7 linked regions of the Homo sapiens genome follow. The protein of the gene in region 6 purifies or fractionates together with the protein of the main gene of each other region. This does not show direct contact. Each region holds a gene or a part of one and is shown on either strand. Other genes may lie near its edges.

What was found.
Region 1: the proteins of SULF2 (region 6) and TXNDC11 purify together in Homo sapiens (affinity purification with mass spectrometry; one large-scale study listed by BioGRID and IntAct). This does not show direct contact.
Region 2: the proteins of SULF2 (region 6) and POTEE purify together in Homo sapiens (co-immunoprecipitation; one large-scale study listed by IntAct). This does not show direct contact.
Region 3: the proteins of SULF2 (region 6) and UBR1 purify together in Homo sapiens (affinity purification with mass spectrometry; one large-scale study listed by BioGRID and IntAct). This does not show direct contact.
Region 4: the proteins of SULF2 (region 6) and DCAF1 purify together in Homo sapiens (co-immunoprecipitation; 2 studies listed by BioGRID and IntAct, with this or other methods). This does not show direct contact.
Region 5: the proteins of SULF2 (region 6) and PRKACB purify together in Homo sapiens (affinity purification with mass spectrometry; one large-scale study listed by BioGRID and IntAct). This does not show direct contact.
Region 7: the proteins of SULF2 (region 6) and NOS1AP purify together in Homo sapiens (affinity purification with mass spectrometry; one large-scale study listed by BioGRID and IntAct). This does not show direct contact.

Annotation. Positions count from the first base shown.
Region 1 is NC_000016.10:11,694,358-11,697,857, forward strand, and holds part of TXNDC11 (thioredoxin domain-containing protein 11), read right to left. Parts: intron 1-3,500. UniProt on the Homo sapiens protein: May act as a redox regulator involved in DUOX proteins folding. The interaction with DUOX1 and DUOX2 suggest that it belongs to a multiprotein complex constituting the thyroid H(2)O(2) generating system.
Region 2 is NC_000002.12:131,212,536-131,216,035, reverse strand, and holds part of POTEE (POTE ankyrin domain family member E), read right to left. Parts: intron 1-3,500.
Region 3 is NC_000015.10:43,096,039-43,099,538, forward strand, and holds part of UBR1 (E3 ubiquitin-protein ligase UBR1), read right to left. Parts: intron 1-3,500. UniProt on the Homo sapiens protein: E3 ubiquitin-protein ligase which is a component of the N-end rule pathway. Recognizes and binds proteins bearing specific N-terminal residues that are destabilizing according to the N-end rule, leading to their ubiquitination and subsequent degradation.
Region 4 is NC_000003.12:51,420,016-51,423,515, forward strand, and holds part of DCAF1 (DDB1- and CUL4-associated factor 1), read right to left. Parts: intron 2,417-3,500; coding exon 2,292-2,416; intron 983-2,291; coding exon 1-982. UniProt on the Homo sapiens protein: Acts both as a substrate recognition component of E3 ubiquitin-protein ligase complexes and as an atypical serine/threonine-protein kinase, playing key roles in various processes such as cell cycle, telomerase regulation and histone modification.
Region 5 is NC_000001.11:84,182,271-84,185,770, reverse strand, and holds part of PRKACB (cAMP-dependent protein kinase catalytic subunit beta), read right to left. Parts: coding exon 3,443-3,500; intron 1,735-3,442; coding exon 1,636-1,734; intron 672-1,635; coding exon 589-671; intron 1-588. UniProt on the Homo sapiens protein: Mediates cAMP-dependent signaling triggered by receptor binding to GPCRs.
Region 6 is NC_000020.11:47,656,906-47,660,193, forward strand, and holds the end of SULF2 (extracellular sulfatase Sulf-2 isoform a precursor), read right to left. Parts: intron 2,826-3,288; coding exon 2,792-2,825; intron 2,548-2,791; coding exon 2,494-2,547; intron 1,488-2,493; coding exon 1,457-1,487; 3' UTR 501-1,456; downstream 1-500. UniProt on the Homo sapiens protein: Exhibits arylsulfatase activity and highly specific endoglucosamine-6-sulfatase activity. It can remove sulfate from the C-6 position of glucosamine within specific subregions of intact heparin.
Region 7 is NC_000001.11:162,363,191-162,366,690, forward strand, and holds part of NOS1AP (carboxyl-terminal PDZ ligand of neuronal nitric oxide synthase protein), read left to right. Parts: exon of another isoform or gene 1-2,159; coding exon of another isoform or gene 2,160-2,213; coding exon 2,214-2,379; intron 2,380-3,500. UniProt on the Homo sapiens protein: Adapter protein involved in neuronal nitric-oxide (NO) synthesis regulation via its association with nNOS/NOS1. The complex formed with NOS1 and synapsins is necessary for specific NO and synapsin functions at a presynaptic level.

The sequences.
Region 1 (3,500 bases), on a different chromosome or scaffold from region 6:
TCGAACTCCTGACCTCAGGTGATCCACCTGCCTCGGCCTCCCAGGGCTGTAATCCCACTGGGATTGTAAGCATGAGCCACCGCGCCCGACCAGCAATGCTTTTTTTTGAGACGGAGTTTTGCTCCAGTTGCACAGGCTAGAGGGCAGTGGCACCATCTTGACTCACTGCAACCTCTGCCTCCCAGGTTCAAGCGTTTCTCCTGCCTCAGCCTCCCAAGTAGCTGAGACTACAGGCGCACACCACCATGCCTGGCTAATTTTTATATTTTTAGTAGAGACGAGGTTTCACTATGTTGGCCAGGCTGGTCTTGAATTCCTGATCTCAGGTGATGTGATCCACCCTCCTCAGCCTCCCAAAGTGCTGGGATTACAGGCGTGAGCCACTGCGCCCAGCCAGCAATGCTCTTAAAGAGTTAGGCATTATCATTTTTCTCCTATGAAGGGGAATTTATGTTTCTATTCCTTTTACCTAACAGGCAGTTTTGAAAACACAACTCATGTCACATTCTGTGTATCACTTGATGTCATTTATTTCATGTGAATAATTAAGGAAATCTTGGCAAATAACTGTTCGCACAGTAGATGTTTCCTTCTATTTTCTTTAATCAGGGAAATCTGTGAGCCTGAACATGCTAACCACGCCTTTGCTTACCAGATTCAGACGATGTGAATGCCTCAAATAAACACCTTTAAAATAGGAAACAAGTCACGAAGACTCTTTGCTGGCTGAGGTAAGCATTTCCTTTGATTAACAAGTTGTGTAATACACACTGTGATGTCTTATAACCTCTCTAGAACTCTCTAGAGACACCAGGGTGTCAGTGGCCTCACGCCAGTGTCAGGATCTGTACTTTTGCATGTGTGTGTGGGTACACATGCAGGTATGCATGTGTGTAGAAGCAGCTACCCACTATGGGCTTGGTGCGGCCACCATATGGTCACTCCTGACTGGCATCCTACATGCACCACAGCACAACTGTCCAGAATGTTGGTGCTTGGTATGCCCCCAACTCTATTCCACTCACTCTAAGATGACCTCTCTCTTCTCAACAATGCAAGCATCCTCAAAGTTCTGCCCAATATTAGGCCTAAGGTGGTAATGAAAAAGTAAAGCCACCTAACTCTTTCGTGGTCAACAAGCTAATGAATTTACAGCTCATCTTGCGTAAGTACAGCGTTCATCCTTCCCACCTTACCCAAAGGCTTCTTCATCTCTAGTCACTGTGTCACAGTTTCCCCGATCATAGACCCTACTTTCCACCCTCCACCTCTACCACCCAAGTTCAGGTTCTTACTACTTCGCAGTTTTCTGGAACCCTCCTGCCAGAAAAACGTTCGTAATGATAACGCACAGCCCTGGCTGCATCTCTTCACTGTCAGTAAGACTTGTATGGGCCAGGTGCAGTGGCTCATGCCTGTAATCCCAACACTTTAGGAGGCCAAGGAAGACCGATCGCTTGAGCCCAGGGCTTTTGAAACCTGCCTGGGTAACATGGCGAAACCCCATCTCTACAGAAAAATACAAAAATTAGCCAGGCGTAGAGGCGTGCACCTGTAGTCCCAGCTACTTGGGAGGCTGAGGTGGGAGGATCACCCGAGCTCAGGAGGCAGTGAGCCGAGATCATGCCACTGTACTCCAACCTGGGCAACAAAGGAAGACCCTAACTCAAAAAAAAAAAAAAGAGAAGACAAAGACTTGGATGACTATGGTTAATCTTGAAATCCTCAGAGAAGTCCACAAGGCCCTCTCCTCCAAAGGCTTTTTCAAGATCTCTCCCCAGTTAGCCCTTCCTGCAGACCACAAAACCCGGCCTCCTTCCTAACACCTAAACCTGCAGCAACTCCCGTCCCTCATGTCTCTGCTCAGGGTCCTCCTTCCCGTAAGTTTTTCTCAACCCATCAAGATCCTGGCTGCCCCTACAAGTCCGTCTCGAATACTTCACCCATCCAAAGCCTCTGCTAACTCCTCCCCTGCCCGGAACCCCGCTTTCTGAGATGGCACCCTCCCTCCTCTGGTTCCTCCTGACCCTGGGCCTGATCGTCCTCTACTTTGAATTATAGGCAGGCTTTCACTCCCTGTACTGGACAAGCCTCTAAGACCACAGGACAAGATGGTGTCGCATCTATCCTTTCTCCCCTGGAGCTTCCCAGCACAGTGCTCAGTAAACATTTGCCAAACTGACCTGAAACAAAAAGGGAAATGTGCTGGACAGGCACTTTGCTTGTCTGAGTAATTCATAATACGGTGAGATGCCACCTCGTGTTCGGTCATCTCACCCACATGCTGAAGTTAAGGGAACGCACTCACCTCACAGAGACAATGGGAGCCCCAAAGAAAGGAGTCACAGGCAAAACCATGATAAAAAGGAGGCCTGTTGGTAGGTGGAGGATTTGCAGACTGCTGGAGGGGACACTCATTCAGAAACAACAGGCGAGAAAGAGTCTTCCCACCAGGTGCCTAAATCCAACCACAACCCTCTGGGCAGAGGCTGTGGGCTCCTGCCACAAAATACAACCCAGCCAGGACCCTGACACACCCAAACCAGACAGGAGAGAACTCTCCAAATCCACAACCACAGCCACACCACCTTGACCGAAAACCTTCCTTTCCTACAATGAGCTTTAAGGCTCTTAATATTAGATACAGTAAAGGCCTAGTCATTTGAAATGGTGCCTCAGTTCACAAAATATCCATGTAGTGAAAATTTTCTAAAGAAATAGTTTTATTACTTTGAGTCCTCCCTAATTAGAGGGGAAGAAACAAAGCTATTTCATTTCTCTCCTCTTTCTTCCTCTAAACCAAAGAGCAGCATTCATTCAGAATACTCCCCAGAGGGAATCATAACTTGAGCAAAAAGACTCCAGCACAGCAAAGGGAGGGATCCACCTGGGCGAGAAGTCCTGCCTCCCTGTCCCTCCAGGCAGGAGGCCAGGCCAGCGCTGAGGGGCTCAGGTCTGCTTAGCTGGCCAGTGGTACACTGGCTGTCTGAAATTGGTTTTGGCCAATTAAGGGATCCTTGAGGGAGTGAAAAAATAAAAACCTCAGTAAATGCAATTTTGCCACCCCAGGCTCGCTCTGCATACTGTGCCTGCTGTCTCTCCAGGCTCGCTCTGCAAAATGTGCCTGCTGTCTCTGAGCGCCTCCAAATGCTCCGTGTGGAAAATAAACTCACGCCCAGAGCAGGCGCACCAGATGAAGCCGAAGACAGGCAGGAACAGCAGGCTCCGATGGCGCTGCCTCTGAAAACCACTCTGGCTTCTGCACGACAGGGAAGGTTCAGAGAAACAAGGTGTCCCAACATCGCTGCTGCTGCTCGCTCTCCTCTGCTGTCCTGAGGATGGCCAGGGCTGGCAGTCTGGCCAAACCCCCAAGACAATGGCATCTCCTAGGCCACACTAAACTCGGCCTGTGTTCCTGCCACTCCCTGTTTCACCCCCTAAACAGGAAGCTCAACAGCAGCCACATCAGAAGAGGGCATTTGGTCCTTCTCTAGAAGGGC
Region 2 (3,500 bases), on a different chromosome or scaffold from region 6:
GTATGGAAACCAATGTTAATTTTGTAACTCTCAACTTTATTGAATATAGTGTTTATCAGCTGTAATGGGTTTTTTGTGGAGTCTAAAACACAGACAATCTCACCCCTTCCCTTCCTATTTAGATGCCTTTCCTTTCTTTGCCTTGTATAATTACTCTGGCAAGTCAGTTACATATAACGTTCTCAGCATTTGTAATTTGACATCAAATCCATCTGTTGTAATACACTGATTGTTACTTTTCAACTCGAAAACATGGACATTTATCACTACTCTCCCTTTCTCTTGGTCTAGTTGTTATTTAAAAAAAAACCTATCAATGCAAACCAGGATATTTTTCTACAAAACAATTTCAAACACACTAAAAGGTTTTAATCTAACAATTTTTAAACTTTCTTTGTCAATGACTTTGAACTGTGGTCTCTCGGAACAAATCCAACACCTTTAGTAGAAAAATTATGTTAATTCCTACATTATCATTGGGTCTAGCCAAGAGTTGACCAAAGGTGATATTAACAGATATGCTTATTTATTACCTTGTTCTCAAAGTTCTAGCGTAAGTCTTGAAAAATCTAGTAAAAATTTGTAAAGACTATAATTGCACAAACTCCCTCTCTCATGAGTCACACAGTTAATCCAGAATACTATTTCTAAGTTATTGTAAAGCCAACAAGTAAATATGATGTAGTGTATAAAAATAATCCTAATTGCATTGTATATTCTGTAAGTGACATATGCAATTGATACTATTTACTAAATATCTCATAATTATATTTATTTACATAGAAAAAAGGAATCAAAAACATATCTATTATCTAACGTTTAAATGATTAAAAATACTTGAGATAGCATTGCTACATAAATGCTATGTAAATGCTGAAGAAAGTAAAAATGTCATTCCCTACATTTGCTAAATATATTGTGACACATTATAAGCATTTTTAAAATATATCACTAATGGTTGGGTCAAGTCAGCAAAAATGATTCTAAGTATTTAATTGTGGAAAAATTTAGTACAGGGGATAGTATTCATGTGATGGAAGGATTTTAAATGGAACCCAGAGATTAGCAGCAGCAGTAAGTTTTAATTGCATACCAGGTGCAGAGTCTAGGATACAAGACAGAACTGCAGATAAAATCTGACTCCTTCCAGCATAGCTAGGAGACATGGCTAACTCCACCTGTCCGGAGACCTTACCTAGAAATCTAACGGCTCCAAACCAGGTAAACAAAACTATTTTCCAAAGTCAAAGCATCAATTTATGACATTAAAGCACTTCTAAAACTTAACCTCTGACTTAAATTAGACCAAATGGATAAATTTTGAAGATATTTTTATTTTACCACTGACTTTAACACCATCTTTATTTCCCAAAGATTACTGAAGTCACATGAAATAAAAGGCATTAGAGCTTCTATTTTTCTTACAAAATATTTAAGAGCTTTCATTTTCTTTTAAGCCGAGCCATTATATATACATCACATACACAACACTTCTAGACAAGAAAAGATCTAGCAGTTGTTCAGTTTTTCTTTCCCACTTTATGAACCATAACACAACTTCCACAGACTATCTACGACATGATTAAATTTATCTGACCTGTCCTGTATTTCCCTCTTTTGTAATTAGTCATTCTACTTTAGGACAACAATTTGCCATATAAGATCCTCTCTCATATAACATTTCTTTCCTTCATAACATTTCTTATAATAAATACATCTTCATATCCACAATTTTCTTTAGATCTCTCTCCCCTACTAATTTCTGATGCCCATCCAAACCAAAAAGGTCAGACAACGCAAGGCAAAACAGAGGAGAGCCTTAGATTTTTGAGAGGGACCTGTCTGCTTAAAGTTCTTGGGGTTCCATGAGGAAAACAGAGGTTTCTCCTAAAATGGGGTTTGTGGAACCTTCTGTTTTTCCTTAAGGAGTCCCAGGTTGTCAGAAATTACCTTAGATCCTCTCATGTGGGCATCAAGAGTGGCAACAAGAGAGACTGGGGTAATAATTCAGACAACTGAGCAGAAAAAGAAAAACTTACTACTGTCCCCACTGTAATGATGGATAAACTGAGGCACCATGCAGTTCAAAAATTCATGTTCACATAATTAGGATCCACAGCTCACTCTCTTAAATAATTTTGCCAACTCTATGCCCAGTCACTGATGCACCTGTATGGTAGCTCATGGCCCCCTTGGAACTTAGAACCTGGGTTTCATTCCTGCTCTACGGCTATATAATTCAACAATTTTCCTTTGAATTTGTTGGACTCTAACCCTGTATATCTCAAATTTTATTAGTATTACTGAATCTTAAAGGGAGCTGTGACGTCTTTAGTCTTTAGAAATATTAAACCTATAAACAAGGACTATATGAGGTTAAACAGTATTCAAATTTCTATATGCTTTAAAACATGGACACAATGTATTGAGAAACACACCTACAAAACTGCACCCCATCAACTCTGGACAAAAATTTAGATATTATCTCTTCAATATAACCTATCTAGTGGTATTTATACATATTCTTCCATGTATCAATGGTATATTACATGCTCATAACCTTAAAAATAACAAGTGTTCAAATTATAGGCCTTACACATTTCTACGGGCTTGAAAAATGATACAATATAGATTGTCTTTAAAGCAGTCAAGAAAATGCATAAACTTCTAGAGGAATCAGTAAAATAAAGATAAAAAGTTCACACCTAAAGTAGTAATACTAGGAATAAAAGAGGGCTCGACACTGCAGGTTCTTAGATACAAAAGTTAATAAAGCCTTGTTTTTGGTTGTGAATCTTTGCCTTAAAATACACACAGCCGACCGAGGTGGGTGGATCACCTGAGGTCAGGTGTTCTAGGCCAGCCTGGCCAACATGGTGAAACCCCATCTCTACTAAAAATACAAAAATTAGCCGGGCGTGGTGGCAGGCACCTATAATCCCAGCTACTCAGGGGGCCAAGGCAGGAGAACTGCTTTCACCCAGGAGGCAGGGGTTGCAGTGAGCCAAGATCGGGCCATCGTACTACAGCCTGGGGGACAAGAGCGAGACTTCATCTCAAAAAAAAAAAAATTACACACAATTCTCCCGACTTCCTTTTTCTCTTGCAAAGAGGTGGTGATGAACCAGGTTTGCTCAGGCAGATGGCAATACTCTTGAAAATGGTGGCAGAGAGCCAGGCGTGGTGGCTCACACCTCCAATCCCAGCACTTTGGGAAGCTGAGACAGGTGGATCACTTGAAGTCGGGAGTTCAAGACCAGCCTGACCAACATAGAGAAAACCCATCTCTATTAAAAACACAAAGTTAGCTGGGCATGGTGGCACATGCCTGCAATCCCAGTTACTCGGGAGGCTGAGGCAGGAGACTTGCTTGAACCCAGGAAGCGGAGGTTGCAGTGAGCCGAGATCGCCCCATTGCACTCCAGCCTGGGCAACAAGAGCAAAACTCCATCTCAAAAAAAAAAAGAAAGAAAACAAAGGAAATGGTGGCAGAGAAAATG
Region 3 (3,500 bases), on a different chromosome or scaffold from region 6:
AAAAATGCTAATGATCATCTGAGTCTTTAGAAAGTTGTCATCTTTTTGCTGATAGGGGGATCTTCCCTCAATATTAATGGCTGACTGATTAGGTTGGTGATTGCTAAACGTGGGGGTGGCTATGGCAATTTCTCTCTTTTTTTTTTTTTTTCTGAGACAGAGTCTCACTCTATCCCTCAGACTGGAGTGCAGTGGCACGATCTGGGCTCACTGCAATCTCCGCCTGCCGGATTGAAGCAATTCTCCTGCCTCAGTCTCCCGAGTAGCTGGGATTACAGGCGCCTGGCTCATTTTTGTATTTTTGGTAGAGATGGGGTTTCACCATGTTGGTCAGGCTGGTCTCAAACTCCTGACCTTAGGCAATCCGCCCACCTCGGCCTCCCAAAGTGCTGGGATTACAGCCGTGAGCCAACGCGCCCGGCCAGGCAATTTCTTAAAATAAGACAACCATGAAGTCTGCCACATTGATTGACCTTTTCACAAAAGATTTCTCTGTAGCATGTGATAGCATGTTACCAATGGCAGAACTTCTTTCAAAACTGGAGTCAATCCTTGCCAACTCTGCGGCTGCTTTATCAACTATGTTTATGGAATATTCTAAATCATTTGTTCTTATTTAAACAATGTTCACAGCATCTTCACCAAAAGTAGATTCCATCTCAAGAAACCACTTTCTCTGCTCATCCAGAAGAAACAATTCCTCATCCATTAAGTTTTATCATGTGTTTACAGCAATTCAGTCATAACTTCAACCTCCACTTCTAATTCTAGTTCTCTTATTTCTACCACATCTGCAGTTACTTCCTCTACTAAAGTCTTGAACCCCTCAAAGTCATCCAGGAGGGTTGGAATCAACTTCTTCCAAACTCCTGTTCATGTTGATATTTTGACCTCCTCCCACAAACTATGAATGTTCCTAATGGCATCTAGAATGCTGAATCCTTTCCAAAAGTTTTTCAATTGACTTTGCCCACATCTATCAGAGGAATCGTAATTTATGAAAGCTATAGTTTTATGAAATGTGTTTCTTAAATAGTAAGAGTTGAGAGTTGCAATTACTCCTTGATCCATGGGCTACAGAATGGATATTGTGTTAGCAGGCATGAAAATAACATTTATCTCCTTGTATATCTCCATCAGAGCTTTTGGGTGACCAAATGTATTGTCAATAAGCAGTATATTTTGAAAAGAATCTTTTTTTTTTCTCAGCAGTTCTCTACAGTGGACTTAAAATATTCAGTAAATCATGTTATAACAGATGTACTGTCATCCAGGCTTTCTAGTTCCATTTATTCAACATACGCAGAGTAGCATAATTCTTAAGTATTCTTGGATTTTCTGAATGGTAAATGGAAATTGGCTTCAACTTAAAATTACCAGCTGCATTAGCCGCTAGCAAGAGAGTCAGCCTGTCCTTTGAAGCCAGGCATTGACTTCTCTCTAGCTATGAAAGCTCTAGATGGCATCTTCTTCCAACAGAAGGCTGTTTCGTTTACATGGAAAATCTGTTTAGTGTAGCCACCTTCATCAATTATCTTAGCTAGATCTTCTGCATAACTTGCTGCATCTTCTCCATCAATCAGCACTTACTGCTTCACGCTGCACTTTTATGTTGTGGAGATGGTTTCTTTTCTTAAACATCACGAACCAACCTCTGCCAGCTTCCAACTTTTCTTCTGCAGCTTCCTCACTTCTCTCAGCCTTCGGAGAACTGAAGAGAGTGAGGGCCTTGCTCTTTGATTAGGTTTTGCCTTAAGGGAATATTGTGGCTGGTTCAATCTTCTATCCAGAGCACTAAAACTTTTTCCACATCATCAGTAAGGCTGTTTCACTTTCTTATTATTTGTCTGTTCACTAGAGTAGCACTTTTAATTTCCTTCAAGAACTTTTCCTCTGCATTCACAACTTGGCTAACTGCTTGGCACAAGAGGCATAACTCTTGGCCTATGTCAGCTTTCAACAGCCTTCCTCACTAAGCTTCATCATTTCTAGCTTTTGATTTAAAGTGAGAAATGTTGAACTTTCCTTTTCACTAGAATACTTAGAGGCCATTGTAGGGTTAACTGGCTTAATTTTAGTATTGTCCCATCTTAGGGTATAGGGATGCCCAAGGAGACGGAGAGAGATGGATAAGTAGCTGGTCAGTGGGGCAGTCAGAACAAACACAGCTTTTTTTATTATGTTTGCTGTCTTTTATGGATGTGGTTCATGGCACCCCAAAACAATTACAATAGTAACATCAAAGGTCACTGATCACAGATCATCATAACAGATATAATAATGAAAAAGTTTGAAGTATTGTGAGAATTACCAAAATGTGACACAATGACACGAAGTGAGCACACAATGTTGAAAAAATGGCACTGAAAGGCTTCCTTGAGACAGGGTTGCCATAGACTTTCAATTTGTAAAGAACTGATTATCTACAAAGCACAATAATAAAGCTCAATAAAATAAGGTATGCCTGTATTTCACTGGTTCATCTGTATCACTGATTTATAAAAGTATCTATCCAGACACACTCTTTGTGCAGTACTGAGGACAAAAACCTTTTCATTTGCAGGATGTTTGGTATTATAAGAAGTCAGTTTCCAGCACTAGCACATCTACACTAAGTTACTGTTCCTTCCCTAGACTCTTAGTTAGTGGGGCTGAATCAGTCATTTTGACTTAGAGTTTTAGAACTCAATTTCACATCTAATTCTATAGAATCTGGCATTAAAAAATCAAAATTTCCCTAACTCCCCAAAATAGAAATTATGAGATGGTGAAAAAACAAAAGCCATTAGGTCTTGCTAAGATCTGGTGACAAAGTACTTCAGTTAGACTCAAAAGACCTACATTTTCATCAGTTTTCCCACTCAGAGTGTGTCCTTACTACACAAAACTGTGCTCTGGCCTAAAACAATATAGATTCAAATTTCTAAGGAAAATCATCTCCAATTAAAATCACATATAACTCCTCACTTCTATATTGAAGTCAAGAGATTATGTTGTATTTTAAAGATCCCCTATAGCCCAGGCACGGTGGCTCACATCTGTAATCCCAGCACTTTGGGAGGCTGAGGCGGGTGGATCACCTGAGGTCAGGAGTTTGAGACCAGCCCGGCCAACACGGCAAAATCCCGTCTCTACTAAAAATACAAAAATTAGGTGGGCATGGTGGTGTGCACCTGTAATCCCAGCTACTCGGGAGGCTGAGGCAAGAGAATTGCTTGAACCCAGGAGGCAGAGGTTTCAGAGAGCCAAGATTGCACCACTGCACTCCAGCCTGGGTGACGTCTCCAAAAAAACAAAAAAAAAAAGTTCCCCTACAGATATGAGATTATGGGTACATTTTTCTTTGATTTCCATAATGATTATTGCGTAACCATAACAATATTAAACTTTTAAAAAATCCTCCCATTTCAGCAGGAGACAACTTTGGGAAATAACAGAAATATTCTATAACCTGATTTGGTGGTAGTCACACAAGTATATACATTTGTTAAAATTTATCC
Region 4 (3,500 bases), on a different chromosome or scaffold from region 6:
CTGTAGGCACCATGGTCCGACTTCTGCCGCAACACTCTGATTTTCCTGCCATTGCAGGGTGATGGCCTCTCTCTGATAAAACTGATTCTACCAATCAAAGGGGAGTTGCCTGCATAAGATGGGCCGGGCAGAGCTAGCGGACCCTGGGGGGGCCGTGGCTGAGGATGAGCAGTAGGGGCAGAAGGCGCAGAGGCACCCACAGCAGCATGGCTGCCCAGACGAGTTGCAATGCCATTAGCGATACGAGGGGTTCGGGGTAGAGAGACAGGAGAAGCAGCAGCAGTGACTGGGGTAAAGGCAGAAGAATGGGAGGCAGCAGTCATGGGCAGGTCAGCCTCTTTTGTCAGCACGGTTGCTGTTTCTCCAAGCCCTTTAGAAATAAGATGGTTTCGTATCAACAAAAGCAGCTCTTTCTCAGGGAAGGAGATCCTTGACTGGGCAACAACATCTGCTTTCTGCAGTCGTGCTAGGGAAACATCAGTGCCAATGAGAAGTGGTTTTCCTGACACCCGTTCAATGAGTTCAGCAGCATACTTGCAGAACTTGACATGGTCACTGCGCTTGTCCTGCAGCACAGGCTCCTTCATCAGCTGCTGGATCTGGCAGCTGCTGAAAAGGGGCAGTTTACTGATGATCTGCCGGACAGTGCTACTGCGAGACAGGCCCACTAGGGCTTTGCAGGCCAGGGCCCGGATTTGGTCTGCATCTGTGATGGGCATCTTAATGGACAGTAAGGACAGGAGCACCTTGATGCCGTTGTTGGACTGAACCACATTCCACATCTTGGCCAGGGTGTGCTCACTGCTTTTAGGGTTCTGAGGCAGCTTTCTCCGAGGAGTACCAGAGATAAATTTACCAATACTGGATATTCGGTTATCTGGGCCACACACACAATTGATGATAATCTGAAGTGCTGACTTCTGAATTTCAGCATCATGGATGAAGAACTCACCCTCAGCCACTCCCAAAATAATGCTGATACCTAATGGGAAAAAAAATTATGTATTATTCACCATAAAACTAATGGCCAACTTCAATAGTTGTTCCAGAGTCAAAATTTGGTGTTCTACTCACTTTTACTTTAAAAAACTATATTACTTTTGTAAAAACTGCAAGGGTTTGTATAAAGTGCAGACAGTTCTACTACAATGTATTTTTATGGTATCTCATATGCAGTTATTAAATAGGGAAATCATGTCATAATTATGGAAAAGTAATCAAGGTTCATGTGCAATTTTTTCTGGTTTTATTATTTTTTTGAGGCAGAGTCTCGCTCTGTCGCCCAAGCTGGAGTGCAGTGGCGTGATCTTGGCTCACTGCAACCTCCGCCTCCCGAGTTCAAGTGATTCTCCTGCCTCATCCCTGCAAAGAGCTGGGATTACAGGCGCCTGTCACCACGCCCAGCTAATTTTTGTATTTTTAGTAGAGGTGGGGTTTCACCATGTTGGCCAGTCTGGTCTGGAACTCCTGACCTCAGGTGATCCACCCGCCTCGGCCTCCCAAAGTTTTGGGATTACAGGTGTGAGCCACTGTGCTCGACCTTTTCTGGTTTATTAATTTTAATACACTAAAACCTTAGGAACGGAGAAAGCCCTCGGTTGGGCTGCTACTGTGGAAGCAGAACCCTTTCCACTCTATTTTAAGAAAATTAAAAACCAAGTGCCTGTGTCTTAGTCCTATCCTGCATCTTGTCCCATCACACGACTTCCCATGCTCACCCCAGCAGTGCCCTGATCAGCCTTGCTCTTAATAAAGTATATTATCAAAGTATATTTTCCTTTTTTTATATATGTATGACGGTTTCTACCCATTTTGAGCTACCTGCCAATTACTGACTCAGGTTACAAAACTGCTTACTTTGTTGTTTTTTTTTCCCTTTAACTCCTGGAAAGCTGTGATGCTTAAGTTTTTTACTATCTGCCTCAACCCATTTTTCCCATGAACTTTATTTTTAGTGCAAGACTCTTCAGAGTGTGAGCTTTTCAGGAAAGCTATAATATACCATTATAGCAGAAATGCCAGTACCACTCAGAAAACCTGAGTTTACTAGCATGACTCCCTTACATCAAACTATCTGGTCCTACATTTGTATTTTTGTTTTTTGGTTTTTTTTTTTAAATTAGTTCCTGATCTGCTGAATGGTACTCCTTATAAAGGACAGACAAGGAGCCCCCCTCTACTACTTCTGTTCTAAAATCCAAAATTAGGTCAGGTAAGTAACCAAGACCAGAGTGGCAAAGAAAAAACAAATCCAGACCAAGAAACAACAAAAATGGCAAAGTACAACCTACCTACAGTAGAGACTGTAGATCCAGCCTCATCCAACACGTCCACTGATTCTGCCAACTGGAGCTGGATTTTTGGCACCACAGTAAGAATAGCCAGGACATCCAAAGCAAAGCGCACAGTGTCATTCCTGGACAGGAAGAATTAGTCAAAGGGAAATTAGAGTATAGCCACAAGAATCAAGAGAGACAGAGAGAGAGACACACAGACAGATAGACACATACACACAGAGACAATAAATCAGAAGCACTACCAGTGTGGCTCTATCTCAAGCTGTCGCATCAAGAGAGGATTTTATAGTCACCATGACATTACTTCCAAAAAATATAGCAATGGAATTTTTACCTATTAAACTTCTATGATAAAAAACATAGAATAATCCTGAATCCTTTCATCCTAGTGAAAACATATAGAGACACGTACTCTCAAAGTTTTGGTGAGAGTAGAAATTAGTACACTCTTTCCAGAAAGTAATCTGGAGGCCAGGCACGGTGGCTCAAGCCTATAATCCCAACACTTTAGGAGGCCAAGGTGGGAGGATCACTTGAACCCAGGAGTTTGAGACCAGAATGGGCAACATGGTTTTATCTTTTTCTATAAAAAAAAAATATAAGATATTAGCCGGGTGTGGTAGCACGTGCCTGTAGTCCCAGCTTCTCAGGAGGCTGAGGTGGGAGGATCACCTATGCCCAGGAAGTTGAGGCTGTGGTGAGCCGTGATTACACCACTGCACTCCAGTCTGGGCAACAGAGTGAGAGCCTGTCTCGAAAAACAAAAAAAAAGAAAAATGAAAAAAAAGAAGAAAAAGAAAGTAATCTGGAAATATGAAACAAGATTCTTAAAATGTTCATAAACCTTGTCCTAGAAATTTCACCTCTGACAATCTGTCCTAAAGAAATAATCAGGCCAGGGCCAGGCGTGGTCTCATGCCTGTAATCCTAGTGCTTTGGGAGGCTGAGGCGGGCAGATTGCCTGAGCTCAGGAGTTCAAGACTAGCCTGGGCAACATGGCCAAACCCTGTCACTACTAAAATAAAAATTAAAAAAATAAATTACCCAGGCTTAGTGGCGGGCGCCTGTAGTCCCAGCTACTCGGGAGGTTGAGGCAGGAGAATTGCTTGAACCCAGGAGGCGGAAGTTGCAGTGAGCTGAGATTGAGCCACCGCACTCCAGCTCGGGCCACAGAGAGAGACTCTGTCTCCACAAAAAAAAAAA
Region 5 (3,500 bases), on a different chromosome or scaffold from region 6:
ATTAAGTACAGGTAAAACCATCAGATTCTATAACCTATTTTAATAACTCTGAGATCTTATTAGTCATAACCTGATGAGGTACAAACTCCCGTTAAATTATGTGTATATTTTAAAAACTAAACTTAGCAAGAACTTTAAGGAGAATTAAATTTGTGAAAAACAAACTTTTATAATCTTATTACCATAATACTATTATTATTATTTCTCTATATATTTATTTTCCATCTTCATCCTTAAAACAATCCTCTGTCCTGGAGTTGTATTATTAATCTTTGTTTAATAAATATTGATATTTTAAAATTCAATTAATTTTTCCATTTTCTGAAAACTCTTCAAGTAGTGGACCCTCACAATATCTAGCAGTAGTATAACATTTAAATTGGCTTCAAAGTCCTTTTTTTATATTAAATTTTTATATTCTTTATATTAAAACTTGTGTATGATGTGGCCTCTTTGTTTCCACCTAATGCTTCATATGGCCAAAATATTAATCAAACAAAATAAGTTTTTGGCATTGGCATCAACTTAAAAATCTGGTTAAACAACACAAGCATATAAAGATTTGAAGAAAGCAAAACCATTAGTTACCTGAACCTTCCAATTCTTCTTAGATGTGAAAACATTTCACCCCCAGGGACATATTCCATAACCATGTATAAATTAGAATTATCCTATGAACAAATAAAAAGGAAATACAATTATTCAACTTAGGTCAAAATTATTTTAATATTATATAATGCTGAATTAGAAAAATTTAAAATCTCTCTGACAGATTAATAACCTTGAGAAATAAAGAATAAATGGAACATGCTCTAGCTTTTCTATACAGAGACACTCATATTTTTCCCCTCCTAGTTATTTTTGCCACAAACTAGTCTGGGACTTTTGCTCTTCCTTTTCTTGCAGAGAACATCTAGTTCTCAAACAATTAAATACTCAGGCAATGAAGTAACGTTATAATATATGCAAAAGAATAACAAAGGTAAAAAACAATTTAAAAAGTTAATAAGAATATTTACATTTTATGTATAAAAGATTAATGGTTTTAATATTTTAAATACATAGGTCTTCATTTAATTTAAAGAATAAAGGAGAAAAAAGATTAAAATGTTTCATATGATTCAATATTGCAGAGAGATGCCAGTATCATTCCAAAGAGCTCAAAAGTGACCAATTTAAATAATAAATGTGGTACAATTTTTCAGACATTTGAATAGTGGAACAAAAATTTTGCTTTGTATAAGTGAAAAGACTAGAACTCAAATTACTAAGTAAAAGAAGATGAGATAGTGGCAAAAAGGGCTTAATCAAAGTAGAAAATGTGTTGGGTGTATGAATTTGCATAAGAATTGTTATTAAGATATCCCTATGGTTTTTGATAAATTGAAATATTTCTTTTTGTAATACCATCTCATGAGTATCACCTTTGAACAATTTCCCCAGGGAGAATCAAAACCTTTTCAAACGTTACCTAAGTTATAAGCACAATAGGATTTAATTACACAAACTCTAGAGGTATTCGTTTTGTTTATTCATATTCTTCAGGCTTATCATCTGGTTTAGAATCCATTTATAGTTTCATCTTAAAAAAAATTTAGGTTGAAAATATCTTATTTAGATATTACTAAAATTTACCTTAAAAGCATACTCCAGTCGAACAAGGAAAGGAAAATTCACTGCCTGTAATATTCTTTTCTCATTCAAAGTATGCTCTATTTGCTTCAGTTTAACAACCTGTAATTGAGAGATAAATATCTCTTAATGTATTTAAGCAAAATTAAAAAGTTATCATTTAAAAAAATGTTTTCCATATAGTAATAAACTTGGATAAGCAAAATTGTTAGAATTGGATAAGGAAGATAATAACAATTACCAACTTTTAGGTTGGTGCATAAGTAATTGCGGTTTTTGCCATTACTTTTAATAATAGGATTCAAATGAAAACCTAATAGAGGATTTAAAACTTGGTCTTAGGAAGGTCAATTATGGTTTCAATTAAGAAGTGAGAGCTAAGTAGGAATAAGAAACAAACTCATAAGAAATTACTTTAAAAATTAGTTATGTCAATTATGCTTAAATAAATATATAATTACTTAAGGTAATTTAAAAATGAATGTGAAAATACTAAGGTCCTAATGACTTAAAGTCCTCTATAAAAGCTGGCTCAAATCTCTGCAATAAGTAGATAGTGATTTTAAATACTTCAGAAGATGAATAAGAAAATTAAAAATGAAGAGAAAGTCCATAACTGAAAAATAGTGAGTAAAAATGAACAATTTTCATTTTATAATATCTAAATAAATATAGGTATAAATTCTAAAAATTTATTTTATATTGCCATAGAAGAGGACACACAAAATATTGGGGAAAAAACTATCTTTATAACAAAAACTATCTTTGTATCCTAGGTCATTTAGACTTAAGCTTCCTCTAGATTTTCTATTTAATAGAAGGGGAAAGTAATTTATCTTGACTTCACGAAGACTGTGATTCTATTCCATATGTGATTCTATTTTGAATTTAAGAAGTGGTGACTTTAGCAAGACATATAAATAATTTTCTTGTATATGTGTAAATCATTAGAAGGTGGCATTCTTTCTTGCTGGAGTCTAATGGTCAATGTGAGGATAGTCACAGAAGTCAAGAAGTTAAATATAAATAACAAAAGTAATTAAAGATACCAGCCAGGTATTAATATATAAAATTAGGAGTATACTGATAATATTGAGCAAATAAATTGAGTAGGAGTCAGATTTGTGTTTTAATCTAGGCCTTTTATTTAACTAACTTTCTGACTTGAGATGATTTCAAATCTTTGGGCCTCAGGTTTTCAAAATTTGTAACATGAAGTGGTTGGATCACTACTGTACACATTTTAACTTCTGTAATAGTTACAAAACAAATTAGTCCATAATTGTCACAATAAATTATAGTTGTCCATCAGTATCCCTGGGGGTTGGTTCCAGGACCTACAGCAGAAACCAAAATGCCCAGGTGCTCAAGTCCCTTATATAAAATGACAGAGGCTTTGCATAAAGCCTATACACACTGTCCATATACTTTAAATCATCTCTAGATTACTTATAATACCTGATATATTGTAAATGCTATGTAAATAGTTGTTACACTGTATTGTTTAGGGAATAATAACAAGAAACAAAAGTCTGTACATGTTAGGTATAGATGTAATTTTTTTCCCAAATATCTTCAATCTGTGATTGGTTAAATCCATGGACGTGGAACCCATAGATATGGAAGGGCTGACTGTATACTAACTATGTATAATATAGTTACAATAAAAATTTAGTTACAATAAAAATTAAATTTAATAATAAAATTATTTGAAGCTGTCAATGGTAAGTCATTATACTGAATCTGTTTAATAGTCTAGCTGATAAAACTAAAGTTTACCCTGAAGGTAAATAACAACAAATACACTCACCTTCTGCTTATCTAAGATCTTCATGGCATAATACTGTTCAGTGGCTTTGTGTTTTACC
Region 6 (3,288 bases):
TTTTTTAAATCCCTGTTGGGTTAAGGGTAAAGGAGGTTAAGGAAGCCTATTTCAAATAATGGTAACAGTTTCTGAGAAGTTAAAAAACGCCACTAGGGAGTTGCTAGGGAGCCTTGGCCTGTTTGGGGCATTGAAACAAATGTGGGTGCTTTTAGGGATTATCTCCGTCATCTGTTAAATGAGAAATGGGTTGGACTGGTGATTGATAGTTGAAATCTGTCAACTACTTGTATCAGGTTAGACTACCTGATACACAAAGAAGGGTTGGCCAAGGCGAATTTCTTTGCAATTGATTAATACTTTTTTAAAAAATGAAGTACCAAAGCTGGTATACTATGAGACTTACCTGTAGTCCCTTGAAGTATGGTAGACTTTTTAGTCAATCTACAACCATCTACTCCCCTTTTAAGAAAATCTTCTAAACCCAAGGCATTTTCTTCCAAAAAGATGTTGACTGGTAGTATCTTGAATACTTTAAAAAAACAGACACACCAAAAAACTCCCAAGAAATGGCCTTTTACAAAATGTCAAAGGTTCTTCATACCAACTGCTGGTCATTGGCTGGGGTTTTGAACACTGTATGACAATACTTAAACTACAAAATTTTTTTTACAAATACAGTTTCATCAAAACTTGGGACATACATCAACTTCATTTCTTTTCAGTACCTTAAAAAAAAAACATCAGTTCTGGGACATAACAAAGAAATACTAGGAGAAATGGTATCTGGACAGGAACAGAAATGTCCACAACTGCGAGGGATTTTCTTTTACACTGGCCACAGAGCGTTTATTGACACCACCACTCCTGAAAATTGGGATTTCTTATTAGGTTCCCCTAAAAGTTCCCATGTTGATTACATGTAAATAGTCACATATATACAATGAAGGCAGTTTCTTCAGAGGCAACCAGGGTTTATAGTGCTAGGTAAATGTCATCTCTTTTGTGCTACTGACTCATTGTCAAACGTCTCTGCACTGTTTTCAGCCTCTCCACGTTGCCTCTGTCCTGCTTCTTAGTTCCTTCTTTGTGACAAACCAAAAGAATAAGAGGATTTAGAACAGGACTGCTTTTCCCCTATGATTTAAAAATTCCAATGACTTTCGCCCTTGGGAGAAATTTCCAAGGAAATCTCTCTCGCTCGCTCTCTCCGTTTTCCTTTGTGAGCTTCTGGGGGAGGGTTAGTGGTGACTTTTTGATACGAAAAAATGCATTTTGTGCAGCTGGTGAGGTATAATCCAAAGCAAAAGCAGGGGCAAAAATGGACTTCCTGAAGTTATCTCTGCTCCTGCTGGTTATCCTCCAGAATCTGTCATGTTGACTGAGAGTGCGTGCTTGCTTTCTCAGGCCTCCTGGCCAATACCACAGGTCTGCTGGAAATCACCCACATGGTTTTTCATTGCCTGTGCAGTCAGGTGATGCCTCTATGTTTTTGGAGGTCCACCTCTGTTGTTTCTTAACCTTCCCAGCCTTCCCACAGTTGTCCCCTAAAGAACAAAACAAACTCATCTTAGCACTTAGCTATCATGGTCTTTATCATGACTTCCTAATCGGTCCTATAGCTGAGGAAGCTTTGCTTCAAGGCTGCTGAGAATGAATATTTCTAGGTTACTTAGAACGGGATTGCCACCACCTAGTCACCTCAATTTTTTGTTTACTTATACACCCAATGCCTGGCAAGGATGGCATTTAAGGATCTGGACAGAATAGTGGCTAAGGAGATTGTGATATGTAAAGATTCTGTACCTTAATTCTAGAAGCACCGAAGAAAGGCTTAGGTGACCTGTTACTAATGTCCTATTAAAGCCACACAGGTTTATATGCATATAAAGGAAGAAATGAGTAGACCAGAGGTTGCAAGTGGCAGTTCACCAAGGGCGATAATTTGCCCACATGGTTAACTTAATGTCAAATTAGATGATAATGATAAAGAATTCTCACACATACTTGCATTTTTGGATTTGGTAGACGAATGAGAAAATCTGGCGAACCTCAGCCCATTCCTGCAGGGAGCAAACTGGCCTGCTCCCTTTAGAATAGAGGTGAACTTTACAGGTTGCCAGTCTCTTAGTCCCTGTCAGCCTCCAATGGCACTGGAGTGAGAGTTTGTAGCATGGGCTTTTTGGAAACCATTTAATGAGGCCATCCTACTACTGATGTTGTATATCAGTTAGCACTTTTGTAGCCACAGCCTTCAAGATGCCTAGCAATTTGTAATATTTAAATGCTTCTCAACCTCTAAGTAATAGCTCAAGTTTACCAAGCACAGATTATAGCGAGAACAGCAGTGTACTGGACAAGGCATTAATCTAAAACATGAAATGGATTCAAGTGTTTTCTTAGGGAAAGATGTGCATTAGTACTTCCCCCCCACCCTCATCATGAGAACAAACAAAGGGTGGTATGTAAGAAATGGCATGCAAATAGAATAGCATTGGCAAAATGAAGCGGTCAGAACCAGATTTCTATTTGTAAGCTGGTTCCTCAACTCACAGTGATTTGGAAGAAGGTCTCTTCATTTCTGGCCACTTTCGACGCTGAAACTGCCTAAGTTTTCAAGTGTCAAAGGAGAATGAATGTTAACCATCACCAAGAAAGAAAAAGTCCCCAAAGAACTATACAAAGAAGGTCTCCTAGGTGACACCTATCTTTGGTGGGTGATCCTGGTCTCGGGCAGACCAGAGGGAAGGGCAGTTTCTCAAGATAACAGGTGCAGACTCACAGAGATGAGACTGAAGGATGGGCCAAGATAGGAGAACTTTGTTTAGGCTTTAATAATAAAACGAAATACCTGTATTGCTCATAGCTTCCTCCATCTTTAAGTCCTAAATGAAGGAGAAATGAAAAACAAAACAGGAGCAGATAGTTTAGGCAAAACAACCCCAACACACCAGAAAACCATCTTATGCTTTTTTGTCACAATCCCATGATGCTGATAGTGTTCCCTACTCAGAGTAGACTGAATTATGAGGGGTAGACTGAATTATGAGGGGAACCTGCCCTAAGTCTCCTAGATAGCCTTGTAGATTGCCTAAAATCCAGTGTCACCATGATCAGTTTCAGGACCCTGATGGCTTCATTCAGCGCTGACCTTAGTTATGGTGAGGGAGGTAGATGCAGGCATGAACATCTGTGCTCCAGAGGACAGAAAGCCAAGAGCCCTGACCAAGTGCAGGAGGGAGTTCCCCTTTGGGCTCTGGGGAAGTTTTCCCGAGGATGTGGCAGGATCAAGTGCGTGGGCTCCGGGGTCAGCCCACCTTGTTCACCTTACTCCTCCATAAAATGAGG
Region 7 (3,500 bases), on a different chromosome or scaffold from region 6:
ACCAAGTGGCTATAAATTGGTGTTCCCACTACCCTCTCCTTGGACTCAACTGATTTGCTAGAGCAACTGACAGAACTCAGGAAAACACCTACATTTACTGGTTTATTTTAAAGGATATTATAAGGGATACCAATGAACACCAGATGGAAGAGATGCATAGGGCAGGGTCTGTGGGAAGGGTGGCAGAGCTCCCATGCCCTCCCAACGTGCACCACCCTCCAGGAACCTCTAAATGTTCAGCTGCCCGGCAGCTCCCCACACCCAGTCCTTTTGAGTTTTTAATGGAGGCTTTATTATGTAGGCATGATTGATTACATCATTGGCCACTGGTGATTAGTTTAACTTTTAGCCCCTCATCTCCTGGAGGTTGGGGCGTGGGACTGAAAAATCCTATCCTCTAATCATACCTTGGTCTGTCCTGTGAGCAGCCCCCATCCCGAAGCTTCCAGGGGTTCCCCAACCACTAATCATCTAATAAGCATACAAAAAACACTCTTACCACTCTGGAGATCTCAAGGGTTTGGGGAGCTATATGTCAGGAAACAGGGATGAAGACCAAACATGTATTTCACTGTATCACACCTGTTCTCACCCCTCCCCAGATCTTCTCTCAATTAATATGAGACAAAAAAATGAGTCTGACTTCTTGACCAAAATATCAGTTCTGTCCTTAGCAGCTTTATGGAGGACAGATTTAGTTTAAATTCCTTAGGCATTATGCCCCTGTGGCTCCACTCAATCAGAAATAGGGTCAACGGCAAGGTCAGGGCCTCCAATCTGGGCAAGAGGGAGGCAGCCACGGTATCCACAAGTGTAATTCTCTGAGTGCTGGTTGCTGGGAGGGGCACACCCTGGGCCAGCAAGTCACTTGGCCAAGGGTGGCCAACTGTGAGGTAGCACTGCCCTTTACTCCCTAAAAAAATGTGAATCTCTTTGGAGCAAACTCCTCTTCAGAAATTTGAGCACTTGTTTTCTGAGCAAGGGAATCAGCTAATGCTTTTGACTCCCCATCCATCTTCCTGCATCCTCGTCCCACCTCTCCTGCCCCCACTCACCTGGCTCTGTCTTTACCCACACCATGGTTTTGGTACAAGAACACCCTTTTCCCCATAAGCTACATTGGTCCAGGCCATAAAAATTCATTAGTTCCCTTTCTTCAGGGGCCTTCTGAAATGCTCCCTGGAGAACTCTTTATTCACTTCTTTGCACAAGAATCACATATGTGTGAACACTGGTATTGGCCTTCTAACTCAGTTTCTTCAAACCAGGGTCCTGGTCTGGTTGCCCCTGTCTCCTCCCACTGAGTTTTATCTCCACATAAGTATTGCTCACCAAGAACAGAGCTGTTGACACCACTGGGCCTCAAGCATGCTGAATGCATTGCTGCCAACTGCTCTGCCTTAAGAAGGTTGGAAACTGATGAGGGTGCCACAAATTGTTCACCTCAGCCCTTCTGGGCTGGTTGGAGGAGGCCCTCTCATGAATCAGTCAGCAAATGTTTGACCCCTACCAGGTGGTCCTGGTAATATGTGGTATGAATCATGGTCCTAGATGTCTGCCATAGCAAATAAAAAAGGAAGACAGGGAAAGAAGCTGTCGCCTACAGAGTGGCTTGATGACAGCTGCCTCACTAATTTAAAAAGCCATGTGTAGTGCTTCCTATTTCTCACTATGTTTGGGTGAGTGGGAGAGGGAGAAAGATTATATGGGCTTCGTTGTGACACTGTTCTTAGCCAGTGGGTCAATAGATGAGTTTTGGTTTTGTTTTTTAGAAGACAGGATGAGAAGAGAGTGCCCCCTTCCACCTCCAACATGGCATGCCATGCTAGGTGCTGAAGGAGTTCTCTAAGCAGGGATGGAGCACCGTGCGTGTGTGTGTGTATATGTGCACGTGTGTGTGTACGTGTGTGTGTGTGGCAGGTCTAGAGGGTCGATGGCTCTTTCCTGCCTCTTGCCCTTGGTATGGGTACCTTAGTGATGCATCATGGCCCTCCCTTAGGACACACAGCTTCGCAGTGCCAGTGAACCCACTCCTTTTGGCTCCTCCTCTGGAATGATAAGCCCAGATGCCCATGCTGCCCGTGAAGGGCTTCTTCTTGAACTGAATGTGGAGGGCATCTCTGGTCCCGGCCATCTGCCAGTGACTCTCATGTGCATTCATGTCCCTCTCTTCTCTCTGTCCTGTCTTCTCTGCCGCTGCCTCTTCTCTGCAGGTACACTTGCTGAAGGACCAGTTGGCTGCTGAGGCTGCGGCGCGGCTGGAGGCCCAGGCTCGCGTGCATCAGCTTTTGCTGCAGAACAAGGACATGCTCCAGCACATCTCCCTGCTGGTCAAGCAGGTGCAAGAGCTGGAACTGAAGCTGTCAGGACAGAACGCCAGTAAGCCAGTGCCCTGCCCAGCCCTGCTTCCTCTGTGAAGGCTCTGGAAAGAGTGTCACTTTCCTTAAGTTTTTGGTGGTGCTTTCTTGGACCCCTGACCTACCCCTATATTCCAGCAGAAAACATAGGCAGCTTTGTTTTCCCATTAGTATACTTAATGAATTACAGAATCACATGCCCAAAGGAGATCTCGGGTGCCTTCTAATCCAGGCCCAGGGCTGGACTTTGAATGTCCCCGGAGTCACTGCTATGTGCTCATCCAGTCTCTATTTGATAGGGGCTCAGGTACTCTGTGTTCTAGGGCAGCCCATTTCTTTCTCAGAGAGCTTTTGCAATCAACAAACAGTATACTTGGCACCTATTGGGTGTCATGGTCTCTGTGAGCTCTGTGGGAGACAGCAGATTGTTTCTTAGTTTACTACTCTGCACTATGTATTTCAAGACTCTGTCACACAGAAAAAGCTGGGAGCAGTATATCTGTTCAGTGGATAAGGCAGTGGAATCTGGCTGCACTGCTCTGCTGGGCAATAGCAGAGGTTGCCTGGCCCCTGCTTGAGAAGCTGTCTCTACACTCAGTACCCCTGGGCTGGGCTGGGCAGCTGTAGATCGCAACACATTTTCACGCCTTCCTCTTGAGCCTTTCCGTGGGTTGTTTGCATGCTCAGAGTGTGTGTGGGCTGTGGACCAGCAAATAGCCATTGATCACATATTGTGCCAGAAACTGTGATAGAATTTTTTGCCTGTGAGCTCATTTAATCCCTGTAGTTCTGCTGCAGAAAAATGGGATGCCATTTTACAGATGAGGTAACAGACTCAGGGAGGTTAAGTAACTAGCTCAAGGTTATAGGCCTAGCAAGGAGCAGAGCCAAGATTCAAACCTAGATCTGATTGCAAAATTTTGTTCCAACTATACCAGTGGTTCCCCCAAACCATCCCATGAGCTCTTTTAAAAATGCGTCTTTCCTACTGAGATCCTACATCGTTCTGTCTAGGGCTGGTCTGGGAGCCTGTATTTTTAAAGTAGCCCAGAGGTGTGGATTGGAAACCAGTGCCCTTCACCACTCTGGAAGCCTCTCTGGATTTTCCAGATTGTTCATTGAAACTCTGCTCTATCCTAATTA